Linked DNA regions of Homo sapiens. The protein of the gene in region 1 purifies or fractionates together with the protein of each later gene. This does not show direct contact. Each region holds a gene or a part of one and is shown on either strand. Other genes may lie near its edges. The genes, in order: PRR15, KLHL26 and PAGE5.

Evidence for each region.
Region 2: the proteins of PRR15 (region 1) and KLHL26 purify together in Homo sapiens (affinity purification with mass spectrometry; one large-scale study listed by BioGRID and IntAct). This does not show direct contact.
Region 3: the proteins of PRR15 (region 1) and PAGE5 purify together in Homo sapiens (affinity purification with mass spectrometry; one large-scale study listed by BioGRID and IntAct). This does not show direct contact.

The regions. Positions count from the first base shown.
Region 1 is NC_000007.14:29,562,287-29,566,650, forward strand, and holds the start of PRR15 (proline-rich protein 15), read left to right. Parts: upstream 1-1,548; 5' UTR 1,549-2,091; exon of another isoform or gene 2,092-2,376; intron 2,377-3,246; exon of another isoform or gene 3,247-3,467; intron 3,468-3,898; 5' UTR 3,899-4,043; coding exon 4,044-4,364.
Region 2 is NC_000019.10:18,668,026-18,672,359, reverse strand, and holds the end of KLHL26 (kelch-like protein 26), read right to left. Parts: coding exon 3,115-4,334; coding exon of another isoform or gene 3,086-3,114; 3' UTR 639-3,085; downstream 1-638. UniProt on the Homo sapiens protein: May play a role in endo(sarco)plasmic reticulum (ER/SR) mitochondrial signaling. May be part of the ubiquitin-proteasome system (UPS) and affect ubiquitination and degradation of target substrates in cardiomyocytes.
Region 3 is NC_000023.11:55,218,955-55,223,148, forward strand, and holds the start of PAGE5 (P antigen family member 5), read left to right. Parts: upstream 1-1,391; 5' UTR 1,392-1,498; exon of another isoform or gene 1,499-1,645; coding exon of another isoform or gene 1,646-1,697; intron 1,698-2,420; coding exon of another isoform or gene 2,421-2,428; coding exon 2,429-2,509; intron 2,510-2,812; coding exon 2,813-2,921; intron 2,922-3,666; coding exon 3,667-3,792; intron 3,793-4,194.

The DNA.
Region 1 (4,364 bases):
GTGCAGTGGCCGGATCTCAGCTCACTGCCACCTCCACCTCCCAGGTTCAAATGATTCTTGTGCCTCAGCCTCCCCAATAGCTGGGAATACAGGCGTGCACCACTACACCCACCTTGTTTTTTATTATTATTTTTAAGTAGAGACAAGGTTTTGTCATGTTGGCCAGGCTGGTCTCAAACTCCTGGTCTCATGTGATCCACCCGCCTCGGCCTCCAAAGCGCTAGGGTTACAGGCTTGAGCCATCTTGCCCGGCTGTCTTTCACTGCTTTTATACTGCAAACAGTTTTCACAACAGAGATGCTCAGTTGCTCCACACCCAGTCCTTCAGGGGAGTTATGCTTGCATATGAGCTCAAGGAACATCAAAATCGTTTTTTGAAACAAGAGCATCCTGGAAGATGAAGCAAGCTGCACCTCTGCCTTCATTAGTGAAAATGCCCTGTGCCAATATCTTTATGTCAAATGAATAAAAAGTACTCTTGGCCGGGCGCTGTGGCTCACGCCTGTAATCCCAGCACTTTGGGAGGGAGGCCGAGACGGGCGTATCACGAGGTCAGGAGATCGAGACTATCCTGGCTAACACGGGGAACCCCGTCTCTACTGAAAATACAAAAAATTAGCCGGGCGCAGTGGCGGGCGCCTGTAGTCCCAGCTACTCGGGAGGCTGAGGCAGGAGAATGGCGTGAACCCGGGAGGCGGAGCTTGCCGTGAGCCGAGATCGCGCCACTGCAGTCCAGCCTCGGCGACTGAGCGAGACTCCGTCTCAAAAAAAAAAAAAAAAAAAAAGTACTCTTATGTGACCAGGAGTGCAATCCCCGGTTCACTTCCTGCAGTGGCTCAGGGCTGGATTTACACTGCCCTCGTTGGGTGGCTGTCCATGGACTTCCAGGCCTGAAAGAAGGAAATTCACATCCTCACTGAGTCGTGTTAAGAGTCTCAGACTGGCAGGTTGTGGTGGTTAAGACCGTAGAAGCTAGAGTCAGGCCCCCTGGGTTCCAACCCTGCTCTGCCACGTACCAGACAGGCAAACCTGAGCAACCATTTTCCCGTGCTAGGGTTTCCTCGCCTGTCGAGTGAGAATAATAATAATAACAATACCTACCTCCTAGGGTTGCTGTGAGAAATAAATGACAATCCACAGAAAGCGCCTGCAACGGCGCCTGGCTGGCAAACAGCGGACTTGTTAATTACAGCCTTTCAACTAAGGGCGCCTGAAACTCGCAAACATTTTGCTCGGGTGTGGATTCGCTCCCGTTAGTTACAAACTTGGGATCCCGGGACCCGGAAAGCAAGGGGGAAAAATAAATCGCGATGGGGCCAAGGGACAGCTGCTGCGGCAACTTTTACCCAGCGGAGCCCACCTACAGCCTCAGCCTCCGGGTCTCAGGTCTCCGCCGTTTCTTCTCAAGGAGTCGGTCGGGGGAGCGGCACTGCACAGCTTTTCTCCAATCAGACACCTCAAGGCTGGCGCCTGATCCAATCTCCTCCCCTGGAGGGTGGGAACGCGAAGTTCCTACCTGCACCTGTGGCAGCGGTGACCGCCTCCTGGGTTATTTTCTTTTCTCCCCCAGCTGCCCCAGGGTTCTGGTTTCCCGAATCACTTGGCAAATAACCAGCAGGTGGGCAGATGTCTTTTTTGCGTTCCTACGGACGCGTAGGCAAGTTCGATGCGCCGGAGTGAACAGCCAGGGTCCCATCTCTCAGCCGGCTCCCGGGCGGTGCTAGCAGGGAAGAGGGACGCGCCGGCGAATGAAACACTACTAGCCCGGAAAGCCGCCCTGGACCTTCCACCCGGGCAGCGAGTCTGGCGGCCCCTCGCCGCCGCCCCCTCCGACCAGAACAGACTGCGCTGCGAGCCCCGGGCTTCCGCCGCAGCGCGCAGCAATTGGAGGTGCCAGAGGAGACCAGCAGCAGCACTTGATTTAGCTGGGCTGCGGGAATTCCGACCTGTACACTTTCCAGAAGCCTGATCTCTCCAAGTCCGCGCCCAGGGACTCGAGCCCCGGCTTCCAGGTTGACCCGAGCGCGCCCCCTTCGTGCTCTCGGCCGCGTTCACCGCGCGAGGCCTCCGGGTCCTGTTAAGCCCGAGCAGGTGAGCGACTGGGGGTGGTTCGGCGTCCGCCGAGACAGAGCCTGGCCCCGGGGGTCACCCTGGGGTGCTGCCTGGTACCTCCCAGGTACCCGCCTCCCGGAGCCCTAAGAGAGGCTGAAAACCACGGACGCTCCAGGACTCCGTTTTCTGTACTTTTGAGTAATTTGCCATCTTTTCCTTGCGCAATTCGTACAAAGCCCTTCCGTGCTCACAAAGTTGATGATTGTGAAGAAGAAAATGTAGGTTAGAGGAGAGGAAGCAGCATCAGGACACCTTACCACCACTGTTAGTAAATGACTTGGGGGTACGGGTTGCTTTTCCGATCTGCAAAGTAGGAGGGAATGGGATGTTTGCAGACGCAGTTGCTAATTGTGCCTGAGGGCGTGGGTGCCTTTTGTACCGAAAGAACTTTTGGCCGTTTTTTCTTGTATTGTTTTCAAGTCGCTGCCCGAGTGTGTCCTCAGGGCATCCTGGGGAGGAGCCGGTGTTGCGGTTTCGGGGCGCAGCCGAGGCCGCCCCGCCGCCTCCCGTAGGCGATCAGACTTCCTCTCCCTGGCGGTTCCGGGAGGAGAACCTCCTACAACAAACACCGCCGAAGTTTCCCTCTCCAGCGCGATCGCCAATCCCAGGAGCGCCCGGCGCGTGGGCTGGGAAGGAGCCGAGCGGAAACCTGGAAGTGAGCCGCGGCGCAGGCGAATCCTGCCGTTGCTGGTGGCAGCGCCCAAGAGACCCCGCACAGAAAGTGGGCTGGGAGTCTCGCTTGCTGTACCCGCACCTAAGTGCTCAGAAGCGGCCTTTCGCTCTGCAGAGGGGGGGTCTTAGAAGCTTGGGGAAGAAGCACATTGTTTCGGAGTTCCTTGTTGCGTTCTTTCTCCTTGGGAGGAGGGAATTGCACAAGGAAAAGAAGAGAAGCCTTTACTTTGTAACTGAAATTCTCCAGAGTTGAGTTGCGTCGTACAGACTCGGTGCATATTTTAATACAAAACTAAGGGAAGAGGCCATTTGATACTTGGCTTCATCTCAACCGTCAGCCGGGGGTGACTTCAAACAGACGCAAGATTGGGCTCTGGGGAGTAAAAGGAAGAATTAGGATGGCGGTTTTCAAGGGAAGTTAAGTCTAGACATGCTTCTTTGAAAGTCACAAGGCAGAAGTGGTCAAAAGTAGAATTTAAAAGAACCAAAACAAATATCATAAGCTTGTCCTTCTCTCCTACTGGGATATAAATTCTCCTAAGTATCTCATCGAAAAGGCTCCTGGGACGAAAGTCGATGGGGGCAAATCTTGGAGGGAAATTTCGTGACTGTTTGACCATGGACTAATTAATACCGTTCACCTGTAGAGAGGATGCACTTGGTTCCCAGCGCCCTCCTCCCAGGTGCTTATCCAAAGGGAGGCCGCCCTGGGTCGGATGGGTCACCTTTTGGCGTCCATCTACAGTCAAGCAGTGTGGACAGGGCGGTCATTTTCCCTCTAGAGACGGGTTGATTCAGAGGGGTGGGAACGTCCCTTGGGTCCCCCGGGCACGCTGACCACTGCACTGCACTTCCCCTGAAGGAAAGGCAAAGGTTGAAGCCAAAGAGTTCAAGGCTCAGCCTAGAGACCAGGTGATGGTGCCCTGGAAGACACTTCCGCCAGCACCCTATGGGGCGCAGTGGCGTCTAATGCTAATGTGGGCTACGTAGCTACGGGATTGGGTCGCTCCGACCCTGGCCGATCCGGTGCCAGACAGCATAAGGGAGGAAAGGGGACTGGGGGGGGCACGTGACTTCAACCAACCCAGTAACCAAGTTTTGTTTTCTTCCCCAGCACAGGCCGCTGCCTCAGCATCCACCCCGCAGCCCACGTGTGGCAAGCCGGGGAAGGGGTGGAGTGAACGGCCGGAGACCACGTGGAGAAAGGGGCCGCTTTGGCCCTTCCATCTGGGTGCCGGGAGCCCCTAGGCCCTCCGGCCATGGCCGACAGCGGCGATGCTGGCAGCTCCGGCCCCTGGTGGAAATCGCTCACCAACAGCAGAAAGAAAAGCAAGGAAGCCGCAGTGGGGGTGCCGCCTCCCGCCCAGCCCGCTCCCGGGGAGCCCACGCCACCTGCGCCGCCCAGCCCGGACTGGACCAGCAGCTCCCGGGAGAACCAGCACCCCAATCTCCTCGGGGGCGCCGGCGAGCCCCCCAAACCAGACAAGTTATACGGGGACAAATCCGGCAGCAGCCGCCGCAATTTGAAGATCTCGCGCTCCGGCCGCTTTAAGGAGAAGAGGAAAGTGCGCGCCACGCTG
Region 2 (4,334 bases), on another chromosome or scaffold:
AAGTGAATCTCCAGGGCCCGTGAGAACGGACGAGCTGGAGCTGCTTCCTCGGAGACAGAGCCAGGGGCAGGTTTCCAAGCTGGCCAGGTCCGGGGCGGATTCCCACCTCACACGGCTCCCCAGAGGCCCCCTTGGCCCTCACTTGCTGAGAGGCCCCAGAAGTCGCACTTGGCCTCCCTCTTGCGGGCCTGCATCTGACCGTCCCGAGAGACAGCGTTTTCCCACAGCCTGAGCCCAGGTGCAAGGGAGGCTCCTGCAGCCGGCGTCCAGGCCTCAGCGAGTAGGCAGGGCATCTGGAAGTAGACAGGCTTCCCCCAGGCTCGGGGCGGTGCCGGGCTCCAGACCCCTTTGGGCCGCCAGGCAGATTGGGCTACGCTGGTCCAGGGGTGCATGCACAGATATGTGTGTGTGTGCATATGTGTGAGCTTGTGTTTCACTGTGTGCGGGTGAGCGTGTGAACGCGCTGCAATGCGTGGGTATGGGCAAGCATGCGTGTGCAGGCGTGCACGAGCACGGCCATGTGAATGTGCGTGTTGCGGCATGCGTGTGCAGGTGTGTGCATGAGCATGTGCGAGTGTGCGCAGGCATATTCTGCCTCTGAAGGACACAAACGTTCACAAAGTGAAGATTCAAGCCAGTTTCTGCTAAATTAAAAACAGCTTTTTCATGTTTAAAGTTTACAATACGAAAAATAATTTTCCTTTCTTGGGGGGATGCGGGGGGAGGCTGAGGGAGGGGCAGGGGGCCCCACGAACATTCCACGAACCGGCCTAGACGGTTATGCACAATCGATCCGGTTAGATACAGCAGCGCCCCCCGCCCTGGGCCGGCGCCCCTGCCAGCTCACTGGGGACAAGATGTTCTGAGGTGTGAGCTGATCCAGGGGACTTGCAGCTGGCAAAGCTTCTCACTGCTCCCCTGAAGGGGCCATGCCTCCAGTGGGGAAGGGTTCTCTTTGGGGGAGCTCAGGTCGGGGGTGGGGCTGGAATGTTCTGGTAAGTCCCCAGGGAACTCGGCTTTTGTCTCGATGCCCCTGACAGTGTGGGCTTCTTTTAGGTTCCCAACCATGTTCCTATTTTAGCACTGCCCACCCCCTCAGCCTCTAGTGTTACCCCAGCCCCGATGGCTGCCACACAGGAGCGCCAGGCATGCAGGCACAGCAACTTATGGAGATCCATGTGTGTGTGATATCCCAGGGCCTCCCTTCTGGGAAGGCCGTCCGGGAACATCAGGCTTTCTCTGCTAACCTGCAACTGATAAGTGGCCTGCTCTGGGCAGCCCAGTTCATAGTTTGGCCGGCCATGATGAGAATAGGGGGCTGAAGGCTCTTCCAAAGTGCCAAGGTTGGTCCGGGCATGGTGGCTCACACCTGTAATCCCAGCACTTTGGGAGGCAGAGGCAGGTGGATCACCTGAGGTCAAGAGTTCAAGGCCAGCCTGGCCAACATGGTGAAACCCCGTCTGTACTAAAAATACAAAAATTAGCCGGGTGTGGTGGTGTGTGTCTGCGTCTGTAATCCTGGCTACTTGGGAGGCTGAGGCAGGTGAATTGCTTGAACCCAGGAGGCAGAGGTTGCAGTGAGCCGAGATCACGCCACTGCACTCCAGCCTGGGTGACAGAGCGAGGCTCCGTCTCAAAAAAACAAAAAAACCAACAACAAAAAACGCCAGGGTGAAAGTCCTGGCCACGCTTCCTGCTGCCTCTGCGCCCCTGAGCCAAAGCCCAGCCCACTGCCGACTCCTCTGAAAGGCTGGAAAAGGTTGAGGCGGGGGAGAGGAGCCCCCAGACACGCGGAGGACACACGAGGAATCTGTGACCAATCAGACCCAAGCCGCACAAGCTCAGTGCTGGGCCGGCTCCATCTCTTCACCATAACATTTTTATTAAATAAAGGGAAATATTAGGAGACGATGTCTGCTAAGATAGGAGGTTAATTCTTTACATGGTGAGTGGGTCACAGAGACAAGACATCAATCGTCTGTTAGCAGCGAGAGAGACACTTTAAGTTGCCCCAAGAGTACAAATCCCATCTATGAGACAGCAGTGCTGGCTTCTTAAAAACAGTAAAACCAATCAAAAAGAAAAGATTTAGAGGTTCAGACATTAGAACAAATGTGGCCAGAGATACCACAGAGCCCTTGAAGGGAAAGGCCTCACTGCTGGCTCCGTAGCAATGTTGACCCAAAAACAGGGCAGGCCAGGGAGTGGCAGGGCGCGGAGGGGTGGAAAGGAGGGAGGAGAAAAAAGACACCCCACCAGACCTGCGGCAAGCGCCACTATGGGATTCTGAAGTTAGCGTCGCCCTCCAATTGCGGGAAGGGGACTGCCTGGCCAACAGGGCAAATGTAGAGGGCCGGGATGTCTCAGCCAGTTAAGGCCCCACAAGATGCTCAGTGCCAAATGGAAGGTCCCAAGCCCCTAAGGAGCGTTTCTAGGAGTTGATATGGTTTTTCCTCCGGAAAGCAGATGAAGGCAGGAACTGAGGCATGACCAGGGCCTCCCCTCAGCAGCTTGGGATGGGGGAAGGAGGGCACCCCAGGGGAGGCAGACACGTGCCCTCCTCCTCCACCCACCCCAAACCAGGGGCTTCTAAGCCACCTCTCACTGCTCCTGGAGGTCCGTGTGTTACGGACGTTTCGGGTGAGTTTATTTTAAAAACACGCGCGCAGGAGACTTGGAAGGAGGGTGAGTCATATACCACCGACTTTGGGTTCAATGTTGATGAGCTCACATCTGAATGCCTGAAACCGTGGGGCTGGGAGGCAGTAGAGAAGTGAGATGGAGCTGCACAGGGACCCCCTGGAGACCTGGGATTCCACCCGCCAGCCCGTGGGGACTCGGGGGCCAGGCGAGGAAACCACCCCGGGGACGAATTTGCTGCCACCACATGTCAGACGCTTTGCCGGCAGGCTCCCTCGGATGGACTCGCAGCCAGGATCTGCTTTGGGAAGGAGGGAGGGAGGGACCCCTGGGAGGGGGGCTTATCAACGCAGCAGGCCCCTCAAGGGCAGCCCGGGCGAAGGGGGGCACTGGGGTTCTCAGGCAGACGTGCATTCGCCAAGCCCCACTTGGAGACAACATGCGGTCAGGCCAGGGTCCCGGGGGTCTTGGGGGCTACCTCCTGGTCCCGGCCCGGGGCAGCAGGACGGGGGCGCAGGCTATGCCTGCGAAGGACTCCGGGAAGTGCAGGTCCCGCTCCCACTCGTCGGTGTCCGTGTTGTACACCTGTACGATGCCCGTGACGTTGTTGAGACGCCAGTTGTAGCCCCCGACGATGTAGATCTTCCTCTCCAGCAGGCAGCAGCCGGCCTCTGACTGGCCGGCCCGCATGGGGCTCACGCTGGTCCACTGGTCCGTCTCCGGCACATAGTACTCCACAGCCAGCACGTCGAAGCAGCGGTCCACGTGGTCCATGCGGCCCCCGAGGGCATAGATGCGGCCGCCGGCACCCACCATGGCGTGTAGCACGCGGGGTTCGCTCATGGGCGCCTTGAACTCCCACTGGTCGGCCACGGGGTCGTAGCAGTGCAGGGCCTTCTTGTCCTCCACTGAGATCCCGTAGCCACCCGAGATGTAGAGGCGGCCCCCTGAGGCGGCCCCAGCATGGCCCCAGGTACGGCGCTTCAGCGAGCAGGCGTAGCCCCACTCATTGCGCCGGGGGCAGTACCGCTCCACGGAGGCCAGGCTGCCGGCTCGGTTGCGGCCGCCCGTGGCGTACACCATGCCGCACAGCACGTTCAGCTGGAACTGGATGCGGCTTTCCTGCATGGCCTGCAGGCGCAGCCAGCGATTCAGGTGGGGGTCGTAGCGGTAGCAGGCGTCCACTGCGCCCTCGCCGCTGCGGTACTGCAGGTGCTGCCCCCCGGCCACGTACACAAAATTGTCCAGCACGGCCACGCACGTGTGGCTGCAGCCTACCTCCATCTCCGTGAGCTCGCGGAAGTGGCGGGCTCCCGGCTCAGGCAGCTGGTAGACCTTGCTGCTGACCGAGCGGTCGCTGTCGGTGTAGGGCGTGCCGCCGAAGGTGACGAGCGAGGGCACATCCGAGCGCACGGCGGTGCGCGGAGACTGCATCTCGTGCTGCCGGAAGGGCAGCACCTGGTAGTTGAAGGCCTCCAGCAGATACTGGCGGCACAGCACGTCCTCCACCATGATGTCCAGCGTCTGCACGCTGTCCACCAGCTCGGACGACTGCATGAGCGGGAAGCGAATGTGGCAGAGCACGTGGCTGGCGCGCGGCCGCCGGGCCGGGTCATGCTGCAGCCAGCGGACGGCCGCGCGGAACAGGTCGATCTCGGCACAGCTCTGCAGCCGGTTGCTCTGCAGGAAGAAGA
Region 3 (4,194 bases), on another chromosome or scaffold:
TTGGCAGAGAATCTGGGATTTTCTAGGTATAGAATCATATTGTTTGCGAACAGAGATTGTTTGACTTCTATGAAAAACATAGTGAAGTGAAAGCAAACATCTGTCCAGAAGGGAATAGAACAATAAAAATGCCCAATAATAAATTTAATTTGAATGTGAAGAACTAATATGAAGCAAATAACACAGTCATTGTGAGGGATACATAAAAAGACTTGAGGAAATGAGGAGTGGCTTTTTCTTGGATAGAGAAATTCTAAAATAGAAAGATAGATATTGTCCCTAAGTTAAGATGTAATTTAAAAATAATACCTAGTGTCTCACCTGGAATATTTTAGCACCTGATCAAATGATTCTGAAGTTCATCTGAAAGACAAATGTGTCAGAGTAGACAGAAAAGGAAAAAGCAATGAGGGAGGGCAAGCATTATTTCGCATTACAAATATAATTAAGCTACAGCAATTAAAATAGTATACTAGTGGTACAGGTACAAACGACTCAATGGAAGAAAATTAAAATAAGAGAGTTACATACAAAATTGAGTGGGGATGTAGGTGATGATAAAAGAGCCACTTCAAAACAGTGGGTGAAACAGGGATTCAACAAATGATGTAGAGTCCCTACCACTTAATTTTGTTCAGATGGATCAATTTTTTTTTTGTTTGTTTGTTTTGTTTTTTTTTTTTTTTTGAGATGAGGTCTCACTTTGTTGCCCAGGCTGGAGTGCAGTGGCACGATCTCGGCTCACTGCAACTTCCACCTCCCGGGTTCAAGCAATTATCCAGCCTCAGCCTCCCGAGTAGCTGAGACTACAGGCGCGTGCCACTATGCCCGGCTAATTTTTTGAATTTTTAGTAGAGATGGGGTTTCACCATGTTAGCCAGGATGATCTCGATCTACTGACCTCGTGATCTGCCCGCTTGGGCCTCCCAAAGGGCTGGGATTACAGGCGTGAGCCACTGCGCCTGGCCCGGATCAATGATTTTGAATGTACAATCATGCAACAAAAACTATGAATGTCTTATCATATTGGAGTGGGTAAGATCATTGCAAGCATGACAGCAGACTCGCGAAGGCACAAGAAAATGATTTATGAAAGCAGATATAAAATGGGTATTAACATATATAATATTTATTTCTATGATGGCGAATTTGTCCGAAACACATTGTTTTCTTAGAGTAACCTGGGCCTCATATTCTCCAACGCCATTGGAAGTGAAAGGAAGGTTGGGCGGGGGAAAAAGAAAAGTGCTTTGTAAGTTCATTTTCGTTGTCAGAAGAGCTTGTGGTTTAGGTTCTCCACAGAGGCAGGAAACCTTCAGTCACGTGGCAAATACCCCACTGAGTGCGCATGCTGCACAGATCTGTTGCTGCGCATGCGCCTTTCTGCCCACCTTCTGTCTAGGCAGAGCTCTGCAAGGAGAGGTTGTGTCTTCGTTCTTTCCGCCATCTTCGTTCTTTCCAACATCTTCGTTCTTTCTCACTGACCGAGACTCAGCCGGTAGGTCTGCAGAGTGGTCTTCCTGGTAATTTAGTTGTGAGTGAATGTGTGGAGGAGCCAGCGGGCTTAGGACAGGTCCCGTGGCACAGTCCGTGGCTTTGAGGGAAAAGGGCCTCGCGGTGGTCCTCCGCCTTCCCCCAGGTCCTGATGCAGGCGCCATGGGCCGGTAATCGTGGCTGGGCTGGAACGAGGGAGGAAGGTAGGCCGTGGAGGGGGTAGATCGCCTGAAGATGGTGCGAGTCCTGGGGGTGGGTGCTGTTAGAGGTGTCTGAGTCCCGAAAACGCCTGGAACTCTCTGAGGGAGGACAGTTTCTGGACTCTTCGTTAGGGATGCGAGAAGGGATGGTGTGGGTGGTAAGGAAGGGGCCAGGAAACTGGGAACGCTGTGGGCTGGTGACTACGGCCCCGAGGTCTGTAGAGTGCCTGGCAGAGGTGTCCAGTGAGGAACATAACCTTAACTCTGTGTCGCAACTTCTCATCTCAGCCATGGACCTCATGGAAAGGAATGGTTGAGGCTGTGCATTCCAACAAAACTTGATTTTTCGGGGAGTGGGGAGGAGGTGGTGGTGGCCCTAGTATATCAGAGTGGGAGGAAAGCAGCAGTCACTTCAGTTTCAATTTTCTGCCCGTTTTTTTCCTAAATGTGTAAATGATGGAGAGTCTAATTGTGAAGCCAAAACTCAGAAAAGTCCTCTGTCTTTTGCTATGGCGTTAAGGTGTTTTCTGTGCCTCTTCGACTATGATACAAACAAATCTGTCCTTAGTTTGATTGGAAAGCATGCGTACTTATCAATGCTCTGTGACTTAGTTTGAAAATATTTTCAAAATTAAAAAAGTACAAATCACCATTTTGCCATGGAATGTTCATATATATAGCTAAGTTCTTACACACTTTTTCCAAATAACAATATTTTGTTTTCAGTGAGAGATATGAGTGAGCATGTAACAAGATCCCAATCCTCAGAAAGAGGAAATGACCAAGAGTCTTCCCAGCCAGTTGGACCTGTGATTGTGAGTCCTTTAGCATTTGATGTTTTCTATTAACACATTTTATTTTAAAAAATATTTTTGAGCGAGTGTACATGCACTGATACAGGTGTTCCATGCTAATAAAAAATGATGATGGCATCTCATGAAGGCAACTTTGGTTCAGGAATATTATATTCTGGTGTTGCCTTATGGATATGGATATTTTACTCTCTCTCTATATATATATCTATTGGAAAATGTCTTTAGATTTATGATTCGATGCACATATGCATTTGTGTGTTTATATTATTGACTTTTTATTCGCACACACACTTACACCCTTAGGTCCAGCAGCCCACTGAGGAAAAACGTCAAGAAGAGGAACCACCAACTGATAATCAGGGTATTGCACCTAGTGGGGAGATCAAAAATGAAGGAGCACCTGCTGTTCAAGGTGAAGGGAGAGTGGAGAATAATGCTTATGGGTGGTGGAGGTCTATTTATGCATTATATTTTGTGACATACCAGTAACAGGAGGACAGAAAACATTAGGAAGGAATCTTAAACATTTCTTACTGCTGCTGTGCGGAGGGGTGGGACAAGGACACATAAAAAGCCACAAACTTTCCTACCATTTTGACGGAGGCTTTTTATTGATTGGGTATTTGCATGGTTGCCGTAAACCTTTGAGTGTTTTCCAGAGTTCCTGTATGGTTTGTTCAGCTATTTTCTGTTTTTTGTTTTGTTTTGTTTTGTTTTATGCTTCTGTGGAAGAATGGCAGCTTGCAGCTTCCTAGTCTGCCATCTGCGGACATCTCTCATGTATTTTTATAAGATACTTTTTAACACATTTATTAATGCTTCCTCATGCTGTGTAATATACTAAGCGCCGGAGATGTCAGTGCCAAATTTTTGCCTAAAGCTCATAGTCTAGTCAGACTGACTCAAACAAATCACTGATTTAATGTGATAAGAATAAGAACAAATGAGTACAAAAGGAACAAGTAAGTTGTCTAGGGCCAGCCTTGGGAAAGGAAAGGGCAATGTTTGAACATTTCTGCTTTCCTGCTTTTCTGGCAACAGACTTCTGAAATAATTAGCCTACAGGTTTTTATTTCACAATGATGAGGGAATAAATATTATTACCTCGTTCATAGTTCATATTTTAATTCGTAAATTGACGACTTTTTATCTTTAAGGGACTGATGTGGAAGCTTTTCAACAGGAACTGGCTCTGCTTAAGATAGAGGATGCACCTGGAGATGGTCCTGATGTCAGGGAGGGGACTCTGCCCACTTTTGATCCCACTAAAGTGCTGGAAGCAGGTATGTTATTCAATAAGATGCAAATTATAGGGTTTCTATTTTCACAATATTGTATTTTGTGTGACACAGAGGTAAAATTACTGCTACTTTAATATCATACTTCACATCTAAAGATTCTTTGAAGGTAGTTCAGACCCCAAATGGCTGCCTTACACACTATCAGAGATAGAAGGCCAGGTGTGGTGGCTCATGCTGTTAATTCCAGCACTTTGGGAAGCCGAGGCAGAAAGACCACTTGAGGCCAGAACTTCAAGAGATAGAATAAATTGGGTCAAAGCTAATTGAGTTACGATATGAAAGATATGAAACATGCTAAGAGAGTAGATTTTGAGTGTCTTCACAGCTATATGAAATAATGCATATATTAATTAGGTTGAGCCGTTTTACAATGTATGTATATTT